Homo sapiens: one gene and its partners. The protein of the gene in region 1 purifies or fractionates together with the protein of each later gene. This does not show direct contact. Each region holds a gene or a part of one and is shown in the gene's direction. Other genes may lie near its edges.

Region 1 (4,261 bases):
TGGAGTTAAATGAAGGAAACTTGAGAAAAACGACTCCTGGCAGAGGCACAGGGCCTATTAATAGGCTGGACAGCAGTGGAGAGGGACTGGACGCTGGAAGCACGATGGGGAAGGCTGGGTTTATTTCTGGGTCAGAATGTTGAGGGGCCTCACTGGAGGGAGTGATACGAATTCCCTCAATTTAGCCTACCAGCTCTTGTGCCCAAGCCCTCATAAGTGGCTTAAACAGAACGCCTGAACACACATGTCATAAATCAGCCACACGTGGAACATATCTAGCTGAGGCCTTCAAGTCCTCCCTTGCTTTTTCCATGCCTAGAACAGGATTCTCAGCCCAGAGAACCAGAGGAAATGGAAAAGGGGAGGGTGTCAAGTGAGAGAGGAATGCTACAGAGCTTTCAGAGGGGCTTTAAAGAGTTTTCTACTAGAGGAGAAGGATGGAGGATGGGCAGGGATCGTGGTCAGGGATTGACAGGCTGAGGGTATGAGGAATGGGGTTTGGCTTATGCAGGTGGGCCATTGCCAAGAGAGGCCAAAGCACTAACTCCATCTCCTTCTTGTTCTGTCTTGAACTAGCTGCCACCCGGGTTACCATGGAGAGAGGTGTCATGGGCTGAGCCTCCCAGTGGAAAATCGCTTATATACCTATGACCACACAACCATCCTGGCCGTGGTGGCTGTGGTGCTGTCATCTGTCTGTCTGCTGGTCATCGTGGGGCTTCTCATGTTTAGGTGAGTGTTGGGGTCCCCTGCAGGCTGTTTCTGCAAATCACTCCCTTTCTTCCTCCTCCTGGGCCCTCTCCTTGATGGTCACATGCACTTCCCTCAATCTTTCCAAATCATGGGCTAGCTCCGGGGTGTAGATTCTCCAAAAACCTGGTATTTCTGGCATGACATGAGTCCTGTGTCTAGAGCCCAGGGTCAAATTTGCGAGGCCATAGCAGGTTCTGCTCCTCACAGGAGTTCTTTTCCTGCCTCCATGACCCAGCTACCCACTCATGGAGTCACTTTGTCACACATTTCTTTCTCCTGGCTGTTCTTTGATGGCATTAGTATGTGGTTTGGTAGTCAAGGTGTGGGTGGTGCTAGTGGTATATCCTTCCACTTCTGAGGCGTCTGGACCTCAGGCCCTGCTTTCTAATCCAGGTATGCTCTAGCTTGGGAGACCCACCAAGCACTCTATGCCTGTTTTCTTTCTTTCTTTTTTTTTTTTTTTTTTTGAGACAGAGTCTTGCTCTGTCGCCCAGGCTGGAGTGCAGTGGTGTGATCTCGGCTCACTGCAAACTCCGCCTCCTGGGTTCACGCCATTCTCCTGCCTCAGCCTCCTGAGTAGCTGGGACTACAGGCACCCGCCACCACACCCAGCTAATTTTTTCTATTTTTTAGTAGAGACGGGGTTTCACCATGTTAGCCAGGATGGTCTCGATCTCCTGACCTCGTGATCTGCCCGCCTCGGCCTCCCAAAGTGCTGGGATTACAGGCATGAGCCACCGTGCCTAGCTCTATGCCTGTTTTCAAGCAGTGTAACTCATCTGTCATGAGACCTGGAACAAGTTACTGTCTTTCTGAGGATTGTAACCTTGTAGTGATTGTAATGTTTGTCCATCTACCTCATAAGGATGTTGTGAGGATCACGTAAATGAGGTGAAAGCTATTTGTAAATTGCATCCTGCTATTAGAGACAGGAGTTCCTCGGGGCAGTTGGGCCTTTGACCAGAGTTTGGGCTGCCCTACTGCCTGGGCTTTTCCAAGTAGTAGAGGAAACCACCATGGCAGAGTTCTTTGGAAGGACCTGCTCTGGACCTGCACTTTGTCATAGCAGGCAGGGCTTATTCACAAAACTTATCTTCCTCAGGTACCATAGGAGAGGAGGTTATGATGTGGAAAATGAAGAGAAAGTGAAGTTGGGCATGACTAATTCCCACTGAGAGAGACTTGTGCTCAAGGTAACGCTCCATCCTTTGCCCCATGACATGATTATCCTTTGTCCCCTTTCCTGGCTGTGCTTCAGTGGGTGCTGAATTCTTCATATAGGGGTTGGGGGCCAGGCTACTGTGACATTAATATCCCATTGCAGAATTATTTTCAAAAAGACTCAGTGCTTCACTTAAGGTAAAAGTTGCTAGAGAGACACCTAAGAGAGATGCCTGAGAGGACAGCTTCTCCCACCCTCATCCCCTCCCTTCCCCTCCCCTCTCCTCCCCTGGGAGACAGAGTGAAACCCTGTCTCAAAAAGTTTAAAAATAAAAAAGACTGGACCAGGAAAATCTTAAGACTTCTTTAGACTGGACCTGGCTTTACATGCCTTCCTTTTGTGCTTTAGGAATCGGCTGGGGACTGCTACCTCTGAGAAGACACAAGGTGATTTCAGACTGCAGAGGGGAAAGACTTCCATCTAGTCACAAAGACTCCTTCGTCCCCAGTTGCCGTCTAGGATTGGGCCTCCCATAATTGCTTTGCCAAAATACCAGAGCCTTCAAGTGCCAAACAGAGTATGTCCGATGGTATCTGGGTAAGAAGAAAGCAAAAGCAAGGGACCTTCATGCCCTTCTGATTCCCCTCCACCAAACCCCACTTCCCCTCATAAGTTTGTTTAAACACTTATCTTCTGGATTAGAATGCCGGTTAAATTCCATATGCTCCAGGATCTTTGACTGAAAAAAAAAAAGAAGAAGAAGAAGGAGAGCAAGAAGGAAAGATTTGTGAACTGGAAGAAAGCAACAAAGATTGAGAAGCCATGTACTCAAGTACCACCAAGGGATCTGCCATTGGGACCCTCCAGTGCTGGATTTGATGAGTTAACTGTGAAATACCACAAGCCTGAGAACTGAATTTTGGGACTTCTACCCAGATGGAAAAATAACAACTATTTTTGTTGTTGTTGTTTGTAAATGCCTCTTAAATTATATATTTATTTTATTCTATGTATGTTAATTTATTTAGTTTTTAACAATCTAACAATAATATTTCAAGTGCCTAGACTGTTACTTTGGCAATTTCCTGGCCCTCCACTCCTCATCCCCACAATCTGGCTTAGTGCCACCCACCTTTGCCACAAAGCTAGGATGGTTCTGTGACCCATCTGTAGTAATTTATTGTCTGTCTACATTTCTGCAGATCTTCCGTGGTCAGAGTGCCACTGCGGGAGCTCTGTATGGTCAGGATGTAGGGGTTAACTTGGTCAGAGCCACTCTATGAGTTGGACTTCAGTCTTGCCTAGGCGATTTTGTCTACCATTTGTGTTTTGAAAGCCCAAGGTGCTGATGTCAAAGTGTAACAGATATCAGTGTCTCCCCGTGTCCTCTCCCTGCCAAGTCTCAGAAGAGGTTGGGCTTCCATGCCTGTAGCTTTCCTGGTCCCTCACCCCCATGGCCCCAGGCCCACAGCGTGGGAACTCACTTTCCCTTGTGTCAAGACATTTCTCTAACTCCTGCCATTCTTCTGGTGCTACTCCATGCAGGGGTCAGTGCAGCAGAGGACAGTCTGGAGAAGGTATTAGCAAAGCAAAAGGCTGAGAAGGAACAGGGAACATTGGAGCTGACTGTTCTTGGTAACTGATTACCTGCCAATTGCTACCGAGAAGGTTGGAGGTGGGGAAGGCTTTGTATAATCCCACCCACCTCACCAAAACGATGAAGTTATGCTGTCATGGTCCTTTCTGGAAGTTTCTGGTGCCATTTCTGAACTGTTACAACTTGTATTTCCAAACCTGGTTCATATTTATACTTTGCAATCCAAATAAAGATAACCCTTATTCCATAGCCTTTTGTCTGTTTGTTTTAACCGGGAACTGGTTTAACTTAGTTATTTCCTAAGCCCTGACTTGGTGGTAGGCTCTATACCAGGCCTATTTATGTATACTACCACAACAATTCTGCGATGCAGGTACTATTACTGTCCCATTTTTCCAGAAGGGGAAACTGAGGCTCAAAGTGGTTGTGTAACTTGCCTGAGGATACACAGCTAGTAAATGACAGAGCTGGGACTAGTAGTCTGGCTCCAATTATTTTGTCTTAGTACTTATACCATGCTATCTCTGAGATAAGAAAGAACAGATCTTTCGCACAGCATGTTTAGCTGGCTGTAATCAGGGAAGATATCCACCCATTCAGTCAACAGGCCCTGGACTCAGGATCTACTCCTATGCTGCACATATGAGCAGGCATTGCTTCTGGCAAGAACAAGATGTCTTTGACTACCCTATCTTGCTCCACAGCCAATCCATCAGCAAATCTTGTCAGCCCTACCTTTAGAATACATG
Region 2 (3,500 bases), about 71 Mb from region 1:
TGAATGAATGAACAAACAAATGATATTACAATGGATGCCAACAAACACCAGATGAAGAGGTGGACAGGGCGAGGTATGTGGGAAGCAGCCCTCCCTGGTTGTGCCACCCTCCAGGAACTTGCACATGTTCAGCTGTCCAGAAGTTCTGTGAATTCGGTCCTTTTGGGTTTTTATGGAAGCTTTATGACATAGGCATGATTGACTAAATCATTGGCCATTGGTGAGCAGTTTAAGCTTCAGCCCCTCTTTCCTGTCCAGAGAGGGTTGGGGCTGAAAAGTTCCAACCCTCTAATCCTAGCTCCCATCCTGAAGCTTCCTAGGGCTGCCAGGAACCTATCATCTCATTAGCATATAAGGGATACTTATCACTTTGGAGAGTCCAAAGATTTTAGGAGTTGTATGCCAGAAAATGGAGATGAAGACTAAATACATATTTTACAATATCACGTGAAGGTTGTGTTCCAGTTCTTTAACCTCCTTACTAGTGCCTAAAACATGGTGGGGACACAAGTTGTTTATGACAATACAGTTTTTAAAACATACTAGAGAATATAGTAATTGAGTAATGCACCACTAATCTGACACTTATTTTGTGTTGCTTTTGTAAATAATGGTGAACTGCAACATACATAAAGAAAAGGACACAGAACATATGTAGGAGATCATGAGGAAAGACCAAGCAAACATACATACTCATCACCCAGGTCAAGAAACAGAACACTTCAAAGTCCTTCCCTGTGTCCTCTCCTTTTCTCTGGAGACCACTGTCCTGACGTATGATCATTACCTGCTTTTATCATTTTATCATCTTGTATATCCTAAACATTTCAGTTTAGTTTTACCTGTTTTATTTATTTATTTTTGAGACAGACTCTCACTTTGTTGCCCAGGCTGGAGTGCAGTGGCACAATCTTGGCTCACTGCAACCTCCACTTCCTGGATTCAAGCAATTCTCCTGCCTCAGCCTCCCAAGTAGATGGGATTACAGGTAACCACCACAATGCACAACCAATTTTTATGCTTTTAGTAGAGACGGGGTTTCGCCATGTTGGCCAGGCTGGTCTCAAATTCCTGACCTCAGGTGACCCGCCCACCTCCTAAAGTGCTGGGATTATAGGTGTGAGCCACCACATCTGGCCAGTTTTACCTGTTTTAAAACTTTATGTAAATATAATAATGCGATATGTATTTTTTCATTTTTTTCAGCATTACCTGTAACTGCATGTATTCATAGTTCATCAGTTTTGGCTTCATAGCACTGTAGAAATATAACATGAGCCATATATGTAATTTTATACTTTCATTAAAAATAAAAAGATAATTTTTTTTTTTTAAGACAGAGTTTTGCTCTTTTTGCCCAGGCTGGAGTGCAATGGCACGGTCTCGGCTTACTGCAACCTCCACCTCCTGGGTTCAAGTGATTCTCCTGCCTCAGCCTCCCAAGTAGCTGGGATTACAAGCACACACCACCACGCCCAACTAGTTTTTGTATTTTCAGTAGAGATGGGGTTTCACCAGGATAGCCAGGCCGGTCTCGAACTCCTGACCTCAGGTGATCCACCCGCCTCGGCCTCCCAGAGTGCTGGGATTACAGGCGTGAGCCACCGTGCCTGGCCAAAAGAAGAAATTAATTTTAATATATTTCACTTAATCTTGTATATCTAAAACATTACTTCATCACGTGATTGATGTAAAAAATGAATGATTCAGGAAATATTTTACATTCTTTCTTCATATTATATCTTTGAAATCCATTGTGCATTTTTAAATTTTTTTGCCCTGTCACCCAGGCTGGAGTGCAGTGGGTGTGATCGCAGCTCACTGCAACCTCTGCCTCCTGGGTTCAAGGGATTCTTGATTTTCGTGCCTCAGCCTCCCAAGTAAGTGGGATTACAGGCATGTGTCACCATGCCTGGCTAATTTTTGTATTTTTAGTAGAGATAGGGTTTTACCATGTTCTCCAGGCTGGTCTCAAACTCCTGGCCTCAAGTGATCTGCCCACCTCAGACTCTCCACTGTGCATTTTAACAGCGTATCTCAGTTTGGACTAGCCACATTTCTTTTTTTTTGAGACGGAGTCTTGCTCTGTCACTCAGGGTAGAGTGCAATGGCACGATCTCGGCTCACTGCAACCTCCACCTCCCGGGTTCAAGCAATTCTCGTGCCTCAGCCTCCTGAGTAGCTGGGATTACAGGCGCATGCCACCACGTCTGGCTAATTTTTGTATTTTTAGTAGAGATGGGGTTTCACCATGTTGGCCAGGCTGGTCTTGAACCCCTGACCTCAAGTGATCCACCCGCCTTGGCCTCCCAAAGTGCTGGGATTACAGACATGAGCCACCGTGCCCAGCCGGACTAGATACATTTCAAGTGTATGATAGACCCAAGTGGCTAGTGGCTGCCACATTGGACAGTATAGCTATGGAGTATTCCATTGTATGGATATATTACAGTTACCCATTCCACTGTAGGTAATTGGTACAATCACTTTGGAAAACAGTTTGATACTGTCTAGTGAAGTTGAAGATATAAAAATATGTGATCCAGAAATTCTCCTGGTTATATACCCTAGAAAAATAAGTACTGTTCCGTACCAGAATACACATTCAAGGATGTTTATAGTTAAACTGTTTACAATACCCCCAAACAGAGATAACCCAAATGTCTGAGCAGAATGGGTTGTGGCTAGAGGCCAATAATCTTATGTTTTAACAAGCCCTCCAGGTGATTCCTGTGCACAGATAAGCTTTAGTTTCATTTACCCAATGGTTTAAATTATTCCAAATAAGTTGTGTTCTTTCTGCTTACTACCAAAAAATGCTAACTTGAAATTATTTTCATGTTCATTTCAGCAAACCGAATCATTATGCACCAAGCAATGACATATATGGTGGAGAGATGCATGTTCGACCAATGCTCTCTCAGCCAGCCTACTCTTTTTACCCAGAAGATGAAATTCTTCACTTCTACAAATGGACCTCTCCTCCAGGAGTGATTCGGATCCTGTCTATGCTCATTATTGTGATGTGCATTGCCATCTTTGCCTGTGTGGCCTCCACGCTTGCCTGGGACAGAGGCTATGGAACTTCCCTTTTAGGAGGTAGTGTAGGCTACCCTTATGGAGGAAGTGGCTTTGGTAGCTACGGAAGTGGCTATGGCTATGGCTATGGTTATGGCTATGGCTACGGAGGCTATACAGACCCAAGAGCAGCAAAGGGCTTCATGTTGGCCATGGCTGCCTTTTGTTTCATTGCCGCGTTGGTGATCTTTGTTACCAGTGTTATAAGATCTGAAATGTCCAGAACAAGAAGATACTACTTAAGTGTGATAATAGTGAGTGCTATCCTGGGCATCATGGTGTTTATTGCCACAATTGTCTATATAATGGGAGTGAACCCAACTGCTCAGTCTTCTGGATCTCTATATGGTTCACAAATATATGCCCTCTGCAACCAATTTTATACACCTGCAGCTACTGGACTCTACGTGGATCAGTATTTG
Region 3 (3,500 bases), on another chromosome or scaffold:
AGAGACGTGGTTTCACCATGTTGGCCAGGCTGGTCTAGAACTCCTGACCTCAAATGATCCAGCCTCCCAAAGTGCTGGAATTACAGGCATGAACCACCATTCCAGGCCTGTATCTAAACACTTTGAAGTGAAATAAATTTAAAGTAAATATGCATATGTTGGTATAGCTTGGAGAACGTTTTTATTCTTTTGGGGGAGTACTTGTCTTTACCACTTCATTAATAACTGAATGCTTATAGGATTTTTTTTTATTTTTTGAAACAGAGTTTCGCTCTTGTTGCCCAGGCTGGAGTGCAATGGCACGATCTCAGCTCTCCGCAACCTCCGCCTCTGGTTCAAGCCATTCTCCTGCCTCAGCCTCCAGAGTAGCTGGGATTACAGGCATGCACCACCATGCCCGGCTAATTTTGTATTTTTAGTAGAGATGGAGTTTTTCCATGTTAGTCAGGCTGGTCTTGAACTCCTGACCTCAGGTGATCCACCTCGGCCTCCCAAAGTGCTGGGATTACAGGCATGAGCTACTGCACTGGCCAGGAATTTTTCAGAAAGATTCAGAATTGTTTTTCTTAATGCCTTGAGATACACTTCTTTAAAGAATGAACAGTTGAGACTGTTGTGATTAGGCAATTTAGAGCAAATTTACCACATGCAACTGTTCAGTGTGCATCAGTTACCTTTTAACATAAAAAAACTCAAGTTTATTGTCTTTACCAAGAAGAACACAAGCTTTGAAGGGTATCAGAATATTTTATATAAATAAACAGACATACTAAAATACAAACAGGTAAAAACTAGCATTTTCAAATCTACTTGGTTAAACATCTGTTGCTTACTATAGAGAACATGAAAGTGCAGAAAATGCATGAAGCGATTCCATCCTGGAGGTAATTTGAAATATTATGTTTAAGTTCTGATGCATTTAATTCAGCAATCTGGTGGGAGAGAAAAATCAAAGAGCTGCATCAGCCAGGTATTCAACTTTTGAGAAAGAAACTCTAACAAATGTTAGAAATTAGGGGAAAAAACTGAATGGGAGAGTTAAAAAAGTCAATAACCTCCAGGAAGCCTGGAAACTATGTAAAAACATCTTATTGGAAGCCCAGATAAATGTGTGCCAGACATCAAAAAGACCAACTGCTCGGGGGAAGAAAAAAAGAACCCGGCATGACTAACTGGCAGAGTAAAAGAGGCTGCTTCAGGGAAAAAGGCATCTTTCACAAAATACAAAGAGTTTAAGCCAGAAGAGGGAAGTCCACTAGGTTTCACAAGGCCCAGGTACAAACTAGAAATTAAGTGGGCTGACAGAGAATTGAAGTTGAATCTTGCAAGGGATTTGAAAGATGGCATGTGTGATAATAATGGTGAAAAGGGTGGGTTGAGTCCAACCTATCTAGGGAGAAGCAATATGGCTTCTTTAAGGGTAAACCATGCCTGATTGATCTCTCGGGATTCTTTGTGTGGAAAAAAAAGCATGAGGATACAGGGAAGCAGACATACATCATTTAGGTTTTTAAAAATTATGCAATGGGATTCTAAGGCAAAGAATATTCAGAAAATATATTTACTTTGAGATAGGTGGGGATAGTTGGACAGAGAGGGAGAGTGAGGGAGGGAAGAGACTCCACTGTTGTAGATGGAGTAGTTTACATGGAGAAGACATGGCTTGTTAGGATGAGTAGTTCTAGCCTAACTCTGGCAAATTTGTTGTCAAATACCTTTGGTGAGGTTCTTCCCTCTTTGAAAAATGGGGTGAAATTGAACCACCTGGCACCTGAGGAGCTTTTAAAATATACTAATGCCTGGGTACCACCCCATACCAATGAAATAATACTTTTTTCAGGAAGGACTAGGCCATGATGGATGGATGGATGGATGGATGAATGTGTGTGTGTGTGTGTGTATTTTTTTTTTTTGAGATGGAGTCTTGCTCTTGTCACCCAGGCTGGCGTGCAATGGCGTGATCTCAACTTACTACAGCCTCCACTTCCTGGGTTCAAGCGATCCTTCTGCCTCAGCTTCCCGAGTAGCTGGGACTACAGGTGTGTGCTGCCACACCCGGCTGGTTTTTTGTATGTTTAGTAGAGATGGGGATTCACCATGTTGGCCAGGCTGGTCTTGAACTCCTGGCCTCAAGTGATCCACCCACCTTGGCCTCCCAAAGTATTGGTATTACAGGCGTGAGCCACTGTGCCTGGCCCATGGTAGTTTTTTTTAATTTTCTTTTTTTTTTTTTTTTTTTTTTGAGACGAAGTCTTGCTCTGTTGCCAAGGCTGGGTGCAATGGCATGATCTCCACTCACTGCAACCTCCGCCTCCTGGGTTCAAGTGATTCTCCTGCTTCAGCCTCCTGAGTAGCTGGAATTACAGGAGCACACCACCACTCCTGGCTAATTTTTTATATTTTTAGTAGAGACAGGGTTTCACCATGTTGGCCAGGCTGGTCTCGAACTCCTGACCTCGTGATCCGCCCGCCTCGGCCTCCCAAAGTGCTGGGATTACAGGCGTGAGCCAGCATGCCTGGCCTAGGTCCCTTCCATCTCTGAGATTCTATTATTCTAAATTTTCCAATGAGATTCATCACAAAATGTTGTTTGAGATAAAGCCTTTAGTTTAGAATCAGTGCATGGTTGTTTTAATTTTGGCTAACTTGGATTTAAGAGAAAGGTGTGTCAAACATGGAGGAAAATGTTTTCAATCAAGATATAAGTGTGAACCACAACTGAGTGCTGCTTTGCTGCAGGTAGAGACATAAGACAAGCACAATGAGAATACTTTGGAAAGAATTAGAACAGAATCCAGCCTTGCTGTCATTTATTGATTAAGTGTCAACATGCTAGGTGATATTTCTTCCCTTTTTCTTTATTGGTAAAATTAAAATAAATCTCTTTATCCCTTACTTTAATGTCCTCTTTGCCATGTGTTTATTCTCTTCAAGTATCTTATCAAGAAATAGAAGTACAGTAAATCCCTAGGCTTCTAGCTGGTGCAACCATCCAGAACACAGCTGGGAATGTGGAAGTAAGCAGAAAAGCCAAATGATGGAAACAGCTGTCATAAAGCCCATGCATTCTATGTGGAGAAAAGGCCTTCAGAAATTTATTATCAGCAATCATTGAATGGCTCCTGTATCCAGAGCAGTATGCTGGGTGCAGGGGATTCCAAGAGGTGTCAAGCAGGAATCAAGCTTTTGAGGAACTTGCATTCAAATTAGGTAGATAGGGTTTATACGTGAGAAGATAAAATGCTTTGGTTATCCAGTTTCCCAGTCTATGGCAGATTAGAAGTAGCAAATGGTATTGGTTGGGGGCCGATGGGAATCACAGGAAGGGATCGTGTTAGAGGCAGGTAAGACTTGACATCTGGAAGAAGTGAGAGAGGACAGTTGGAGGGTGACCAGAAGCTGAATGGGAGAGCCAGAACTTGCTGATCTTGGCAGTTTGAGATCTCCTAGAATGGGCGAATGCTCAAAGCCACCTTTGTAACCATAATCATCGAGGGCAC

What was found.
Region 2: the proteins of HBEGF (region 1) and OCLN purify together in Homo sapiens (affinity purification with mass spectrometry; one large-scale study listed by BioGRID and IntAct). This does not show direct contact.
Region 3: the proteins of HBEGF (region 1) and GPC4 purify together in Homo sapiens (affinity purification with mass spectrometry; one large-scale study listed by BioGRID and IntAct). This does not show direct contact.

The regions. Positions count from the first base shown.
Region 1 is NC_000005.10:140,332,343-140,336,603, reverse strand, and holds the end of HBEGF (proheparin-binding EGF-like growth factor precursor), read left to right. Parts: intron 1-576; coding exon 577-732; intron 733-1,855; coding exon 1,856-1,928; 3' UTR 1,929-1,946; intron 1,947-2,323; 3' UTR 2,324-3,761; downstream 3,762-4,261. UniProt on the Homo sapiens protein: Growth factor that mediates its effects via EGFR, ERBB2 and ERBB4. Required for normal cardiac valve formation and normal heart function. Promotes smooth muscle cell proliferation. May be involved in macrophage-mediated cellular proliferation.
Region 2 is NC_000005.10:69,506,290-69,509,789, forward strand, and holds part of OCLN (occludin), read left to right. Parts: intron 1-2,851; coding exon 2,852-3,500. UniProt on the Homo sapiens protein: May play a role in the formation and regulation of the tight junction (TJ) paracellular permeability barrier.
Region 3 is NC_000023.11:133,405,490-133,408,989, reverse strand, and holds part of GPC4 (glypican-4 precursor), read left to right. Parts: intron 1-3,500. UniProt on the Homo sapiens protein: Cell surface proteoglycan that bears heparan sulfate. May be involved in the development of kidney tubules and of the central nervous system.